Regions from separate parts of the Homo sapiens genome. Here region 1 is linked to region 2. A link means that fine-mapping ties the variant in region 2 to the expression of a gene that starts in the linked region. Tissue or cell type: ovary. Region 2 holds a variant in brackets; the other region holds the start of a gene. All regions are shown on one strand. Distances are between the middles of the regions.

The links. PIP is the estimated chance that this variant, and not a neighbour inherited with it, causes the effect.
Region 1: ABCE1 starts here. The variant in region 2 is fine-mapped to the expression of ABCE1 in ovary (GTEx, PIP above 0.99).

What each region holds. Positions count from the first base shown.
Region 1 is chr4:145,094,452-145,102,544 of GRCh38, reverse strand. It overlaps ABCE1 (ATP binding cassette subfamily E member 1), which reads right to left and starts at 4,234. Exons shown (of 18, transcript NM_002940.3): 1 at 4,126-4,234. ANAPC10 (anaphase promoting complex subunit 10) reads left to right here and starts at 4,349. Exons shown (of 5, transcript NM_001256706.2): 1 at 4,349-4,425; 2 at 6,434-6,560. The coding sequence starts at 6,446. RefSeq lists enhancers at 3,923-4,002, 3,351-4,222, 4,253-4,512, 4,593-4,642, 3,776-4,975 and 1 more.
Region 2 is chr4:144,434,605-144,442,715 of GRCh38, reverse strand. All of the region lies in intron 1 of LOC105377462 (a long non-coding RNA gene), which reads left to right. Among named protein-coding and RNA genes, the nearest start is that of HHIP-AS1, 210 kb to the left of the region's middle. The variant G/A (reference allele first, on the strand shown) is at 3,423.

The sequences.
Region 1 (8,093 bases), 660 kb before region 2:
TCATCATCTCAAATGGACCCTTATGCCAACCAGCAATGACACTGTATGTATTTCCCTGGCTAAGACCATTTGTACACTAGAAGACATTCCATAAGAATGTCCCAACAATTCTCCCTTCTGTCTTTAACTTCATCAATTATTCTCTCCACTGGCTCATTCTTATCAGCATTCAGGCATTCTATTATCTGACCCCATCGTCTCCCATTGTTTTATTTTTCCTTCTTCAAGACTACTTCAAAGAGTTGCTTATACTCAATGTCTCAAATTTCTTGCTACATGCTCTCTGGAATCCATTCTAGGCTCTAGAGCCCATCATTTAATCAAAACTTTTCGAGCCATCATTGTTCTTCACATGGCTAAAACAAATGGTTATCAGACCTTAATTCACCTGACCAATCAATTGCATCTGACACAAATAAACACTTTTCCTACTAGATAAAAACCCTTTCTTAACTTGGTTTTAGGATACAACACTAATCTGGTTTTTCTACTGTTTTCCTGGTCACTCATCTTCATCTCCCAGGCTTCTAAATGCAGAGTGCTCTAAGACTTGGTCATTTTTTTCCACATATACTCATTCCCCAAGTTGTTCTATTCTGGTCTCACAGGTTTAAATTCCATTTATATACTGCAAATTTCCAAATTTCTATCTTTAGTCAGCATACCTCTCTTGAACCCTTCCTGCCCACCTAACATCTCTGGAAGGCTTAAGAGGAATCTCCCAACTAAGCTCCTGATATCCTCACCAAAATTTCAGCAGTCTTGCCCATTTTGTTAGATGGCAACTCCAGTCTTCCATTTGCTCAGGCCCAAATCCTTGAAGTCATTTTCTTTTCCACCTAATAACAGCAAATCCCACTGAAGCTATAAAACATCCAGAATCTGATCTCATGAGTTTGGTGTAAGCTATCACTATCATCTCTTACCAGCATCACTCAAATAGCTTCCTAACAGATCTCTTTGCTTTTACCCTCACCTCTTTCTACTCTAACCCTCAACAGTTCATTCTCAACACAGGAACCATAGGAAGCCTTTTAAAGAGTAAGCTAGATCATGTCACTCCTCTATTTAAAATCCTGCAATGGCTTCATTCTCAATCTGAGTAAATGCCAAAGTCCTGAAAATAATCAATGAGGCATTGATCAGCCTCTGTTAACTTTCTGATCTCATCTCCAACTACTCTAGCTCTTGTATGGCTCCAGCTACATTGGCTCTTTGTTGTTCCTAGCACATGCCAGGCATGTTCTTGCTTCAAGATCTTGGCACTTTCTGCCTGTAATGCTATTCCCCCTAGAGAGTTACATGGCTTACTCCTTTCAATCTTTACTATTTCTCAGTGAGCCTTTTGTAACTACACTACCACAATATACACTACCGAAAAATACACCCAACTGCCTCTTCATCCTTCTTTCTTGCTTTATTTTTCTCCCTAGCTCAACTATATGACATACTATATATTCCATATATATATTTTTTTTATATATATCTGGTGTATATGCACACATCTATCGTGGGTGTGTGTATGTATATTGTCTCTCTACAAACACATACACATTTTTCCCCTCCCCAAGTAGAATGTACTCCATCCATCATGAGGGTAGGAATTTTTGTTCATTCCAGTGGCTGAACCTGTGCCTAGCACACAGGAGATCAAGCATTTCTGCTAAATGAATGAGAATATGAATTTAAATATAGTAAATAATTTTCCTGTAGGTTATAACAACTTTAGAAATCTTGCAAGTTACCAATATTTTATAGTGACAGTTGTCCACTAAACTACATACTGAAAAAAAAAATCATTCAAAAGGAGACTAAATGTTCATGTAATAAGTACAGGGTTATTCCAATAAACAGGTTGACTCTATTCCTCTAAAAACTGGTCCAGGTCTTGTAAAGATTAGAAGAGGAAGAAATTAGATGGCTTGAATTGTCACAAAAAAGCTATTATTCGGGAAATGACAACTTCCTAGGAAATGAAGATTCTTCAGCAAGCTATTAAAACTGGACACCATGCATTCTAATTTAAATACTGAATGCCTTTCTACAATTACTCAGTGAAAGAGCATAATGAATTCCCCTCCAGGGGATAAATCACCACGAAATTGCTTAAACTTTATTTCTGTTAAACTACTAAAATATTTAATTTTTCAAACTATTTTAAAAACCAAAAGACTGTAAAAGACAATTTTTTAAAAAGACACAGGGATCTTGCTATGGTGTCCTGGCTGAGGGCAGTGATCACAGGACACTACAGACTGGGACTCCTGGGCTCAAGGGATCCTCTTGCTTTAGCCTCCCGAATAGCTGGGACTATAGGTGCATGTCACTACCCTGGCTTGATTTTTACAGTAGAATAAAAACATACCAGAAGTGGTTAATAAACTGATTTATATAAAAATAGTGATAAATTGTAATGCATTTAAGAAAAATGAACATGGATTCTTTGTAGAACTGTTAATTAACTGTGTGAACACTTTTAATTCAATTTCTGTATCAGTTTCAATAATTGGGGCAAGGGGATTCCCTACTTGTTTTTCAATAGAAAACCTAGGCACAGTAAAGCTTGGAGAGGAAGATTATAGTTAACAGGCTCCTGCAAACAAAGAAGGATTTGCGGATATTTCAGATTCGAAGACAAAAGTGTTCAAAATTGACACTAGAACAATGACCCTCAGTGTCATTCTTACAGCTGAGAGGAAAAAAGGAAGTGAGGAATACTTAGAAGCATTTACAGTCTAAAGCCAAAATAATTGTAACGCTGTGTAAAAGCATTTCAAAGACTGCTGTTAACTAATGATGTTTAGTATCACATGAAATAGTCTAACCCATGCTTATTGTAGTTTATTAGTCTTACAAAACACGTAGAAGTTAGGAGTGGTACACGGCTCTGATTTCAAAGAGTTTTAAGTTTAAGACATTTAGAAGAACTCTAACTTAATATTGTTTTCTCCCCCTCTCTCCCAATTGTTAGATGCTCTTCCAACAAACAAACAAACAAAAAAACTCCCTTTTTTAAAATAGGGGAGAACTAAGTTCTCAAAAAGCTCACAAACCCCAAACAGCTTTTGGTTCAAATACAGGTTCTGAGCCTTTGGTTACACTAACAAAGTATTAGTGTCAGGTGGCTGGTATACAATGAATATTCTCAGAATATGGGACAAACTACTGCAACATAAATGCCACTATCATAAATGACTAGTTAGCAGTCCTGTTGGGAAAGAGTAAAAAAATAAAACATGTTATTTGGACAGTTCTTCCTCTTATAGATTTTTACCATCAAAAAAGAGAAAATAAGCTTATGTAGTTAATGGGAGGTGGGAATTCGGCTTTGGCTGTCATTCATTCACAATACGTATTAAATGCCTACAATGTACGAAGCCCTGAAGAGATAATAAAGGTATTCTGAGTAAAGACATCAACCTTGATCTCAATGAGTATTAGATACAATAAAAGGAAAAACGGGTAAGGGGAGAAAGTGCCTAGTGCTACAAAAGCGTACCAAAAAAACTATAGGATTTCTACTGGGAAACTACTTGGGACAACCCCAGTCATAGCTGCGTACACGCTGTTCTGAGAAAAGCAGAGTGACATGTGGGCATCATTTCTATAAAGCCTGGGAGTGGACAGCGAGTATTCGACTTCATGGCGGCAAGATGCCATGACTCATTCCACTCAACAAAACGTGGAAGCCACGACTTCCCACAACCAAATATGCACATGTGACAATATATCCATTTTGGGTGCTGGAGGAGTGTGGGGGTACTAGAGAGTGCTGTAAGTTCTAAAGGTGCCTTCCTCTCCAGCAGGTTTAGCTTCAGGGCGGGAGTGGGGTAAAGGGGGAGTGGAGACTACGGCATCTAGGTCCATTCTCGAAGTCCCTCGCGGGTGTGGCAGGCAACAGCGGCGACAGCCGGGTCGGCTGGAGGGGAAGACCGAGGCGCCCCCAAGCTCTCGGCGTCGCCCGCGCTCCATCAGTTCCAGCTGTCCCGCAGGAACCGCTGCCACGCGCTGCTGCTGTCTCCGCCACCTAAGGCCTAACCAAAGGCTCTCGGAGAACGTCCCTACATTCTTTCCAACCTGGCAGATGGCAGCTAACGGCCAAACCTCTCCGGGCTATTCACGTACCTGGAGAAAACGATCCCCTTGCGGAGGGGAGCACAGAGGCCAAATCAGCTCTTGCCTTCACTTTTCAGCCACACAGCGTGTTCTCACGGCCACCGGCCAAAATGGCGGTGCCCAGCCGCCGCACGCGCAAGCCATAGGACGTAGTGCGCGCGCGCGACATAGAGCGTGAGGCGGAACCCTGGAGGTAGGTAGGGAGATATGACGTCATTGAGCTGCGACCCTTGTTCAACGCCGTTGGCGAAGCCAGCTGCTGGAGGTGCCGAGAATCTGAGTTTCGGCAAGCAGCCAGGTCTGGAAACTGTGAGTGTGTGGGCTTTTCTCCGACGTCGAGCGTGGTCCTAGCGTAAACAGATGCATTCGCCTCTCCGGTTTCAATCTTTTTTTACGTTTGCGCTTTCCTCAAGGCCGGTGGGTCAGGAGTGGAGCCTTAGTCATTCTAACGCTGGAGGTGTCAGTAGGACCAACAGAGTCTGGTGCCGACACGGCTTACTGTTGCGCGCTCTTCTAGGCCTCAACTTCCTCTCAACTGTGTGGTCAGTTCAGGGCCGGGAATCCAATCTTTTCCGAGCTCCATATTTTATCCACTTGGTGGCGTCCAGTCCCAAGTCCGGCAGTTGAATTCTGCCCTAAAGATGGGCTTTATTTCTATCTTTTTTTAGGTAACAGGACATTCAGTTAGTAATGATGGTTGCAGGTTGAATAGTCTCGCCCTAGATCTCACCTAACTTGCAGGCAAGTGACAACTAGTTCATAACTGAACCTATTCATCTGTTTATTCATTCAGTAAATTACTTATTGAGCGTTTAAGCCTCAGGCCTTGCCAAAGTTTACAGTCCGTTGTGTCTGCCGTTATTTAGTAAGTATCAAGTGCTTGTGTGCCGATTAAAGAACAACTTCGGATACAATGGGAGGTGTCAAGGAAACGGTATGCAGAACTATTGCACCTATTTTGAATAGCATATATAACAATGTTCAGTAGCAGTAACTGCGCTACCAAAGCAGTTTTACATATTGTTCACGATCCAGTATTGAAGTGTTTTTTCACATATGAATAGACTTAGTAAAATTAACAAAAGATGTGAAAGATGAGGTCAACCTTTTTAGAATGGGCCAGTTATTCACTTCAAAATCTTGAAGCCATTTTCCTGACCTTATCTTCTATGGTAAGAGCATATGTAAGTGAACTTTTAACATTTTTTTCTTATTTTTGTGCTTTTTGGGACAGTGTCTTGCTCTGTTACGCAGGCTGGAGTGCAGTAGCACGATCTCGGCTCACTGCAACCTCCGCCTCCCAGTTCAGGTGATCCTCCTGTCTCAGCCCCCCTGGGACTACAGGTGTGTGCCGCCACACCAGGCTGATTTTTTGGAATTTTTTTAGAGACAGGGTTTCACCATATTCCAGGCTGGTCTCGAACTCCTGGGCTCAAGCAATCCACCTGCCTTGGCCTCCCAAACTGCTGGGATTACAGGTGTGAGCCACCGGGCTGGGTCTTAAATAAAACTTTTGACAGCTAGAGGGCAGGTATGACTGTTCTCTGCATCACTCAATGAATATTTAAAATGAGGATCTTAGTGGGGTGATGGGATCACACCTGTAATCCCAGCTACTTGGGAGGCTGAGGTGGGAGGATCGCTTGAAGCAAGGTGTTCAAGACCAGCCTGGGTAACATAGCTAGATCCTGTCTCTAAAAAAAAAGGAATTAAGTAAATAAAATGAGGATCAATATTTATATATTCCTAGAATAAAAGTATTTCAGTCTGACTTTTCTAGGGCTAAAAGTCATTTGAATTTTCAGGCACAGAATTATAGAACTGCATAGCATTGTAGAAGTAAAAATCATCAAGTGAACCTCTTTAACAGGAGAGGAAATAAAGCCCAGACCTACTCAAAGTCTAGGCTGATTAAAGGAGATACTGAAGCCAAAACTTTGATTCTGTGCTCTTTTGACTACTATAGCTCACTGCTTTGCATATCTGGTCATATGAAACAAAACCTGAATTCCTAAGATTTTTATTTATTTAAAAATAGAGATGGGGTCTTGCCATGTTGTCCAGGCTGGTCTTGAACTCCTGGGCTCACATGATCCTCCTGTCTCAGCCTCCCAAAGTGTTGGGATTACAGGTGTGAGCCACCATGCCCAGCCCCTAAGATTTAAATTACAGTGATTTAATTATATTAACTGCATTCTTCAGAATAAATGATTAATGTCAGGGTATATGAGTTCCATTAAATTTTTCTTGGTAAAAAACTTTTGTAGAAAGATGCCCAGTTCCTGATACAATGTGTGCATTCTTGTTTTCTACATAGAATATTTTAAAAATGACTACACCAAACAAGACACCTCCTGGTGCTGACCCCAAGCAGTTGGAAAGGACTGGAACAGTACGGGAAATTGGGTCACAAGCTGTTTGGTCACTCTCATCTTGCAAACCAGGTAAAAACTAACAAACAAAAAAGCTGTTGGAAATAGTCACTTGCAGTTTCCTTGTACAGGCATCTCCCCTTATCCCAGGGGATACATTCCAGGACTCCCAGTGGATGCCTAAAACCATGGATAGTACTGAACCCTTTCTATATTAATACTATGTTTTTTCCTATACATAAATACCTGTGATAAAGTGTAATTTATAAATTAGGCACAGTAAGAGATTAACAATAATTAATAATAAAATAGAACAATTATAACAATAGAAGTAATAAAGTAATAAAAGTTTTGTGAAAGTGGTCTCTCTCGCTCTCAAAATATTATATTGTACCCTTCCTCCTGCGATGATGTGAGAGATAAAATGTCTATGTGATGAGAGCGAGTGAGGTGAAGAATGTAGGTGTTGTGATGTAGTGTTAGGCTACTATTAACCTTCTGACAATACTTCAGAAGGAGGAGCATCTGCTTCTGGTGATTCTGGATCATCAAGCCACGATGATGTTGATGATTGGATATCAGGAGCAGATGATGTTGATGGCTAACGGTCAGGTAGTATACACAGTGTGGATATGCTGGACAAAGTGGTGGATGTGCTGGACAAAGTGGTGGATGTGCTGGACAAAGTGATGATTTATGTCTTGGGTGGGATGGAGCAGGATGGTGAGAAATTTCTTCACACTACTCAGACAGTACACAGTTTAAAACTTACCAATTGTTTGTTTCTGGAATTTCCCTTTTAATATTTTGAACCATGATTGACCAAGGGTAACTGAAACTGCGGAGATGAAACTGCAGATAAAGATACTACTGTACACTGGTCTGATTTTAATATTCCTTTTGTTTAGATGCTTTATTTTAATTCTAATGCACTGAATTTTTTTTTATCATATATCTCTGTCCAATTTCTTTACTATTCCCTAGTTAGATTTAATTACATATGTCATAAGGTCTTCTCTTTTCCTCCTCTATCTCTACTATGATTCAGTTGTTATTCATTTATTTTTTTTGGCCGTTTCTCTCAATTGGATAAATGAGTGATAACATACGCCAAAATACTTTCCTTTTACTCTTTGTTGGGATAGAATTCTTGGGTGGCAGTCCTTTTCTCTCAAAAATTTATGAATGCTCTTTCACTATCTTCTTTTGCCATGTTGTGGATATAAAGGCCTATGCCTACCTCTCTTTTTTTTTTTTCCTAAGTAACTTGTTTTTTTCTGGAAGCATCTAAGGTTTTTCTCTTTATTCTTGAGTTCATGGCATTTGCCAGATATCTTTTCTCACCCTTGTAACCCATAATTTTATAGGCAGTTTTCACCTGCAGACTCAAGCTTGGAGAAATTTCTTTAGCTTGAGGGACTTTATAATGTTATTAGTTTAGTAGTCATCTTTCTTTCAGAAACTTTTATTATTTGCACATTATGACTCCTGTATCCATCCTCTCAACCAAGCCTCTTCTGTTTCCCCTCAAGATTCCCTTCTCTGTCTTTCTATGAGCACTTTCTTGAGGTATAATTTACATACTATAAAACTTACCCTTTTTAG
Region 2 (8,111 bases):
GTGCAGAGAAGACAAGAGTTGAGGTTTGGGAGCCTCCACCTAGACTTCAGAGGATGTAAGGAAATGCCTGGATGTCTATGTGGAAGTCTGCTGCTGGGGCAGAGCCCTCGTGGAGAACCTCTACTAGGGCAGTGCAGAGGGGAAATGTGAAGTTGAAGCCTGCACAGTCCCCACTGGTGCACTGCCTAGTGGAGCTGTGAAAAGACAGCCACCATCCTCCAGACCTCAGAATGGTAGATCCACAGACTGCTTGCTCCGTGTACCTGGAAAAGTCACAGTCACTCAATACCAGCCTGTGAAAGCAGCTTCAGGGGCATACCTTCCAGAGCCCATGGCTGCCCAAAAGCTGCCCATGGCAGTGGGAGGCTACCCCTTGCACCAGTGTGGCCTGGATGTGAGACATGGATTCAAAGGAGATTATTTTAGAGCTTTAAGATATAATGACTGCCTTGTTGGGTTTTGGAACTGCATGGGGCCTGTAGACCCTTTATTTTGGCCAATATCTCTTTTTTGGAATGGGAGCATTTACCCAATGCCTGTACCCCTGTTGTATCTGGGAAGTAACAAACTTGTTTTGGATTTCACAGACTCACAGGTGGAAGCAGCTTGCCTTGTCTCAGGGACTTTTAACTTGGACTTTGGAGTTAATGCTGGAATGAGTTAAGACTTTGGGTGACAATTAGAAAGGCATTAGTGTTTTGAAATGTGAGAAAAACATGAGATTTGGGAGGGGCCAGGGGCAAAATGATATGGTTGGTTCTGTGTCTCCATCTAAATCTCATGTTGAATTATAATCCCCAGTGTTGGGGTAGGAACCTGGTGGGAGCTGAATGAATTATGGGAGTGGTTTCTAATGGTTTAGCATTATCCCCCAGTACTGTCTCATGATAGAGTTCTCATGAGATCTGGTTGTTTAACAGTGTAGAGTACGTCCCCCTTCTCTTTCTCTCTCTTGATCCACCATGGTAAGGTATGCTTGCTTCCCCTTCACTTTCCTCCAGATTATAAGTTTCCTGAGGCCTCTCAGCCATGCTTCCAGTATGTCTTGCAGAACTGTGTGTCAATTAAGCCTCTTTTCTTTATGAATTATCTAATCTCAGGTAGTTCTTTCTTTAAATATATATATATAAATATATATATATATTATATATAAAAAATATAAATATATATTATATATATAAAAATATAAATATATATTATATACATATACATATACATATATATTATATATACTTTAAATATATATATTTATATATTTCTTTAAATATATGCATAAATTATGTATATTTATATATATTATATATATTTATATGTGTATTATATATTTATATTTATATATATCTTTATATATAATATATAATATATATTTATATTTATATATATCTTTATATATAATATATAATATATATTTATATTTATATATATCTTTATATATATATATTTAAAGAAAGAACTACCTGAGATTGGATAATTCATAAAGAAAAGAGGCTTAATTGACACACAGTTCTGCAAGATATACTGGAAGCATGGCTGAGAGGCCTCAGGAAACTTATAATCTGGAGGAAAGTGAAGGGGAAGCAAGCATACCTTGCCATGGTGGATATATATATACTTTAAGTTCTGGGATAGATGTGCAGAACATGCAGGTTTGTTATGCAAGTATACACGTGCCATGATGGTTTGCTGCACCCATCAACCTGTAACGACATTAGGTATTTCTCCTAATGCTATCCCTCCCGTAGCCCCCCACCCCCTGATAGTCCCCAGTGTGTGATATTCCCCTCCCTGTGTCCATGTGTTCTCATTGTTTAACTCCCACTTATGAGAGAGAACATGTGGTGTTCGATTTTCTGTTCCTGTGTTAGTATGCTGAGAATGATGGCTTCCAGCTTCATCCACGTCCCTGCAAAGGACATTAACTCATTCTTTATTATGGCTGCATAGTATTCCATGGTGTATATGTGCCACATTTTATTTATCCAGTCTGTCATTGATGGGCATTTGGGTTGGTTCCAAGTCTTTGCTATTGTGAATAGTGCTGCAATAAACATACATGTGCACGTGTTTTATAGTAGAATGATTTATAATCCTTTGGGTATATACCCAGTAATGGGATTGCTGGGTCAAATGGTATTTCTGGTTCTAGATCCTTGAGGAATCACCATACTGTCTTCCACAATGGCTGAACTAATTTACACTCCCACAAACAGTGTAAAAGCGTTCCTATTTCTCCACATCTACTCCAGCATCTGTTGTTTCCTTTTTGATGATTGTCATTCTAACTGGAGTGAGATGGTATCTCATTGTGGTTTTGATTTGCATTTTTCTAATGATCAGTGATGATGAGCTTTTTTTCATATGTTTGTTGGCCACATAAATGTCTTCTTTTGAGAAGTGTCTGTTCATATCCTTTGCCCAATTTTGGAGGGGGGTGTTTTTCTCCTGTAAATTTGTTTAAGTTTCTTGTAGATTCTGGATATTAGCCCTTTTTCAGATGGATAGATTGCAAAATTTTCTCCCATTCTGTAAGTTATCTGTTCACTCTGATGATAGTTTCTCTTGCTGTGCAGAAGCTCTTTAGTTTACTTAGATTGCATTTGTCAATTTTGGCTTTTGTTGCCATTGCTTTTGGTGTTTTAGTCATGAAGTCTTGCCCATGCCTATGTCCTGAATGGTATTGCCTAGGTTTTCTTCTAGGGTTTTTATGGTTTTAGGTCTTACATTTAGGTGTTTAATCCATCTTGTGCTAATTTTTACATAAGGTGTAAGAAAGGGGTCCAGTTTCAGTTTTCTGCATATGGCTAGCCAGTTTTCCCAGCACCATTTATTAAATAGAGAATCCTTTCCCCATTGATTGTTTTTTTCAGGTTTGATCAGACAAAAGATCAGATGGTTGTAGATGTGTGGCATTATTTCTGAGGCCTCTGTTCTGTTCCATTGGTCTATATATCTGTTTTGGTACCAGTACCATGCTGTTTTGGTTACTATAGCCAAACTTGTTTTGTAGTATAGTTTGACGTCAGGTAGGATGATACCTCCAGCTTTGTTCTTTTTTGCTTAGAATTGTCTTGGATATATGGGCTCTTTTTTGGTTTCATATGAAATTTAAAGTAGTTTTTAATAATTCTGTGAAGAAAATCAATGGTAGCTTGATGGGGATAGCATAGAATCTATAAATTACTTTGGCCAGTATGGCCATTTTCATGATATTGATTCTTCTTATCCATGAGCATGGAATGTCTTTCCATTTGTTTGTGTCCTCTCTTATTTCATTGAGCAGTGGTTTGTAGTTCTCCTTGAAGAGTTCCTTCACATCCCTTGTAAGTTGTATTCCAAGGTATTTTATTCTCTTTGTAGCAATTGTGAATGGAAGTTCACTCGTGATTTGGCTCTCTGCTTGTCTATTATTGGCATATAGGAAT[G/A]CTTGTGATTTTTGCACATTGATTTTGTATCCTGAGACTTTGCTGAAGTTGCTCATCAGCTTAATGAGATTTTGGGCTGAGACAATGGGGTTGTCTAAATATACAATCATGTCATCTGCAAACAGTGACAATTTGACTTCCTCTCTTCCTATTTGAATACCCTTTATTTCTTTCTCTTGCCTGATTGCCCTGGCCAGAACTTCCAGTACTATGTTGAATAGGAGTGGTGAGAGAGGGCATCCTTGTCTTGTACCAGTTCTCAAAAGGAATACTTTCAGCTTTTGTCCATTCAGTGTGATATTGGCTATGGGTTTGTCATAAATAGCTCTTATTAATTTGAGATATGTTCCATCAATACCTAGGTTATTGGGAGTTTTTAGCATGAAGAGGTGTTGAATTTTATTGAAGGCCTTTTCTGCATCTATTGAGATAATCATGTGGTTTTTGTCATTGATTCTGTTTATGTGATAGATTACGTTTATTGATTTGCATATGTTGAACCAGCCTTGCATCCCAAGGATGAAGCCAACTTGATTGTGGTGGATAAGCTTTTTGATGTGCTGCTGGATTCGGTTTGCCAGTATTTTTTGTTGTTGTTTTTTGAGGATTTTCACATCAACGTTCATCAGGGATATTGGCCTGAAATTTTCTTTTTTTGTTGTGTCTCTGCTGGGTTTTGGTATCAGAATAATGGTGGCCTCATAAAATGAGTTAGGAATGAGTCTTTCTTTTTCCATTGTTTGGAATAGTTTCAGAAGGAATAATTTCAGTTTGGAATACTTTCAGAAGCAACTCTTTTTATATGTGGTAGAATTCGGCTGTGAATCCGTCTGTTCCTTGGCTTTTTTGATTGGTAGGCTATTAATTACTGCCTCAATTTCAGAACTTGTTATTGGTCTATGCAAGGATTTGACTTCTTCCTGCTTTAGTATTGGGAGGTTGTATGTGTCCAGGAATTTATCAATTTCTTATAGATTTTCTAGTTTATTTGCATAGAGGTGTTTATAGTATTCTCTGATGGTAGTTTGTATTTCTGTGAGATCAATTGTGATCTCCCCTTTATCTTTTTTTATTGTGTCTATTTGATTCTTCTCTCTTTTCTTCTTTATTAGTCTGGCTAGTGGTCAATTTTGTTAATCTTTTCAAAAAACCAGCTTCTGGATTCATTGATTTTTTGAAGGGTTTTTCGTGTCTCTATCTCCTTCAGTTCTGCGCTCATCTTAGTTATTTCTTGTCTTCTGCTAGTTTTCGAATTTGTTTGCTCTTGCTTCTCTAGTTCTTTTAATTGTGATGTTAGGGTGTTGATTTTAGATATTTCCCAGTTTCTCCCATGGGCATTTGGTGCTATAAATTTCCCTCTAAACACTGCTTTAACTGAGTCCCAGAGATTCTGGTATGTTGTGTCTTTGTTCTCACTGGTTTCAAAGAACTTCTTTATTTCTGCCTTAATTTTGTTATTTACCCAGTAGTCACTTAGCAGCAGGTTGTTCAGTTTCCATGTAGTTGTGCAGTTTTGAGTGAGTTTCTTAATCCTGAGTTCTAATTTGGTTGCACTGTGGTCTGAGAGACAGTTTGTTATGACTTCCATTCTTTTGAATTTGCTGAGGAGTGTTTTACTTCCAATTATGTGATCAATTTTAGAATAAGTGCAATGTGGTGCTGAGAAAAATGTATATTCTGTTGATTTGGGGTGGAGAGTTCTGTAGGTGTCTATTAGGTCTCCTTGGTCCAGAGCTGAGTTCAAGTCCTGAATATCTTTGTTAATTTTCTGTCTCATTGATCTGTCTAATATTGACAGGGGGTGTTAAAGTCTCCCACAACTATTGTGTGGGAGTCTAAGTTTCTTTGTAGGTCTCTAAGAACTTGCTTTATGAATCTGGGTGCCCCTGTATTGGGTGCATATATATTTAGGATAGTTAGCTCTTCTTGTTGCATTGATTCCTTTAACATTATGTGTGCCGTTCTTTGTCTTTTTTGATCTTTGTTTGTTTAAAGTCCTTTTATCAGAGACTAGGATTGCAACCCCTGCTTTTTTTTTACTTTCCATTTGCTTGGTAAATTTCCCTCCATCCCTTTATTTTGAGCCTATCTGTGTCTTTTCATGTGAGATGGGTCTCCTGAATACAGCACATCGATGGGTCTTGACTCTGTCCAATTTGCCAGCCTGTGTCTTTTAATTGGGGCATTTAGCCCATTTACTTTTAACATTAATATTGTTATGTGTGAATTTGATCCTGTCATTATGATGCTAGCTGGTTATTTTGCTCATTAGTTGATGCAGTTTCTTCATCCTTTCAATGTTTTTTACAATTTGATATGTTTTTGCAGTGGCTGGTACCGGTTTTTCCTTTCCATATTTAGTGCTTCTTTCAGGAGCTCTTGTAAGGCAGGCCAGGTGGTGAAAAAAATCTCTCAGCATTTGCTTGTCTGTAAAGGATTGTATTTCTCCTTTGCTTATGACGCTTAGTTTGGCTGGATATGAAATTCTGGGTTGAAAATTATTTTCTTTAAGAATGTTGAATATTGGCCCCCACTCTCTTCTGGCTTGTAGGGTTTCTGCAGAGAGATCTGCTGTTAGTCTATTGGGCTTCCCTTTGTGTGTAACCTGACCTTTCTCTCTGGCTGCCCTTAACATTTTTTCCTTCATTTCAACCTTGGTGAATTTGATGATTATGTGTCTTTGGGTTGTTTTTCTTGAGGAGTATCTTTGTGGTGTTCTCTGTATTTCCTGAATTTGAATGTTGGCCTGTCTTGCTAGGTAGGGGAAGTTCTTCTGGATAATATCCTGAAGAGTGTTTTCCAACTTGGTTCCATCTTCCCCGTCACTTTCAGGTACACCAATCAAACGTAGGTTTGGTCTTTTCACATAGTCTCATATTTCTTGGAGGCTTTGTTTGTGCCTTTTTATTCTTTTTCCTCTGATCTTGTTTTCACGCTTTCTTTCATTAAGTTGATCTTCAATCTCTGATATCCTTTCTTTTGCTTGACTGATTCAGCTATTGTTTCTTGTGTATGCTTCATGAAGTGCTTGTGCTGTGTTTTTCAGCTCCATCAGGTCATTTATGTTCTTCTCTAAATTGGTTATTCTAGTTAGCAATTCCTCTAACCTTTTTGCAAGGTTCTTAGCTTCCTTGCATTGGGTTAGAATATGCTCCTTTAGCTCAGAGAAGTTTGTTATTACCCACCTTCTGAAGCCTACTATGTCAATTCGTCAAACTTGTTCTCCAGTTTTGTTCCCTTGTTGGTGAGGAGTTGTGATCCTTTGGAGGAGAAGAGGCATTCTGGTTTTTGCAATTTTCATCCTTTTGTGCTGGATTTTCCCTCATCTTCGTGGATTTACCTACCTTTGGTCTTTGATGTTGGTGACCTTCAGATGGGGTTTGGCTGTGGACATCCTTTTTGTTGATGTTGATGTTATTCCTTTCTGTTTGTTAGTTTTTCTTCTAACAGTCAGGCCCCTCAGCTGCAGGTCAGCTGGAGTTTGCTCAAGGTCCACTCCACACCCTGTTTGCCTGGGTATCACCAGCGGAGACTGCAGAACAGCAAAGATTCCTGCTTGTACCTTCCTCTGGAAGCTTTGTCCCAGAGGGGCACCCACCAGATGCCAGTCGGAGCTCTCCTGTATGAGGTGTCTGTTGACCCCTACTGGGAGGTGTCTCCCAGTCAGGAGGCATGGGGATCAGGGACCCACTTGAGGAGGCAGTCTGTCCCTTAGCAGAGCTCAAACTCTGTGCTGGGAGATCCACTGCTCTCTTCAGAGCTGAGAAGCAGGAGTGTTTAAGTCTGCTGAAGCGGCACTCACTGCTGCCCCTTCCCCCAGGTGCTCTGTCTCAGGGAGATGGGAGTTTTATCTATAAGCCCCTGACTGGGGCCGCTGTCTTTCTTTCAGAGATGCCCTGCCCAGAAAGAAGGAATCTAGAGAGGCAGTCTGGCTGCAGCAGCTTTGCCAAGCTGCGGTGGGCTCTGCCCAGTTCAAACTTCCAGGTGGCTTTGTTTACACTGTGAGGGGAAAACCATCTATACCAGCCCCAGTAAAGGCAGACACCCCTCCCCCTACCAAGCTCAAGCATCCCAGGTCAACTTCAGACTGCTCTGCTGGCAGCAAGAATTTCAAGCCAGTAGATTTTAGCTTGCTGGGATCTGTGAGTGTGGGATCTGCTGAGCTAGACCACTTGGCTCCCTGGCTTCAGCCCTCTTTCTAGGGGAGTGAATGGTTCTGTCTAACTGGCATTCCAGGCGCCACTGGGGTATTAAAAAAAACTCCTGTAGCTAGCTCAGTGTCTGCCCAGTCTCCCAGTTTCGTGCTTGAAACCCAGGGCCCTGGTGGTGTAGCCACTCGAGGGAATCTCCTGTTCTGCAGGTTGCAAAGACCATGGGAAAAGCCTAGTATCTGGGCCAGAATGTACCATTCCTCATGGCACAGTCCCTCAGAGCTTCCCTTGGCTAGGGGAAGGAGTTCCCTGACCCCTTGCACTTCCCACGTGAGGCAACGCCCCACCCTGCTTTGGCTTGCCCTCCATGGGCTGCACCCACTGTCTAACCAGTCCCAATATGATGAGCTAGGTACCTCAGTTGGAAATACAGAAATTACCTGACTTCTGCTTTGATCTAGTTGGGAGCTGCAGACTGGAGCTTTTCCTATTTGGTCATCTTGCCAGCCACCTCTCAGGTAGTTCTTTATAGCAGTGT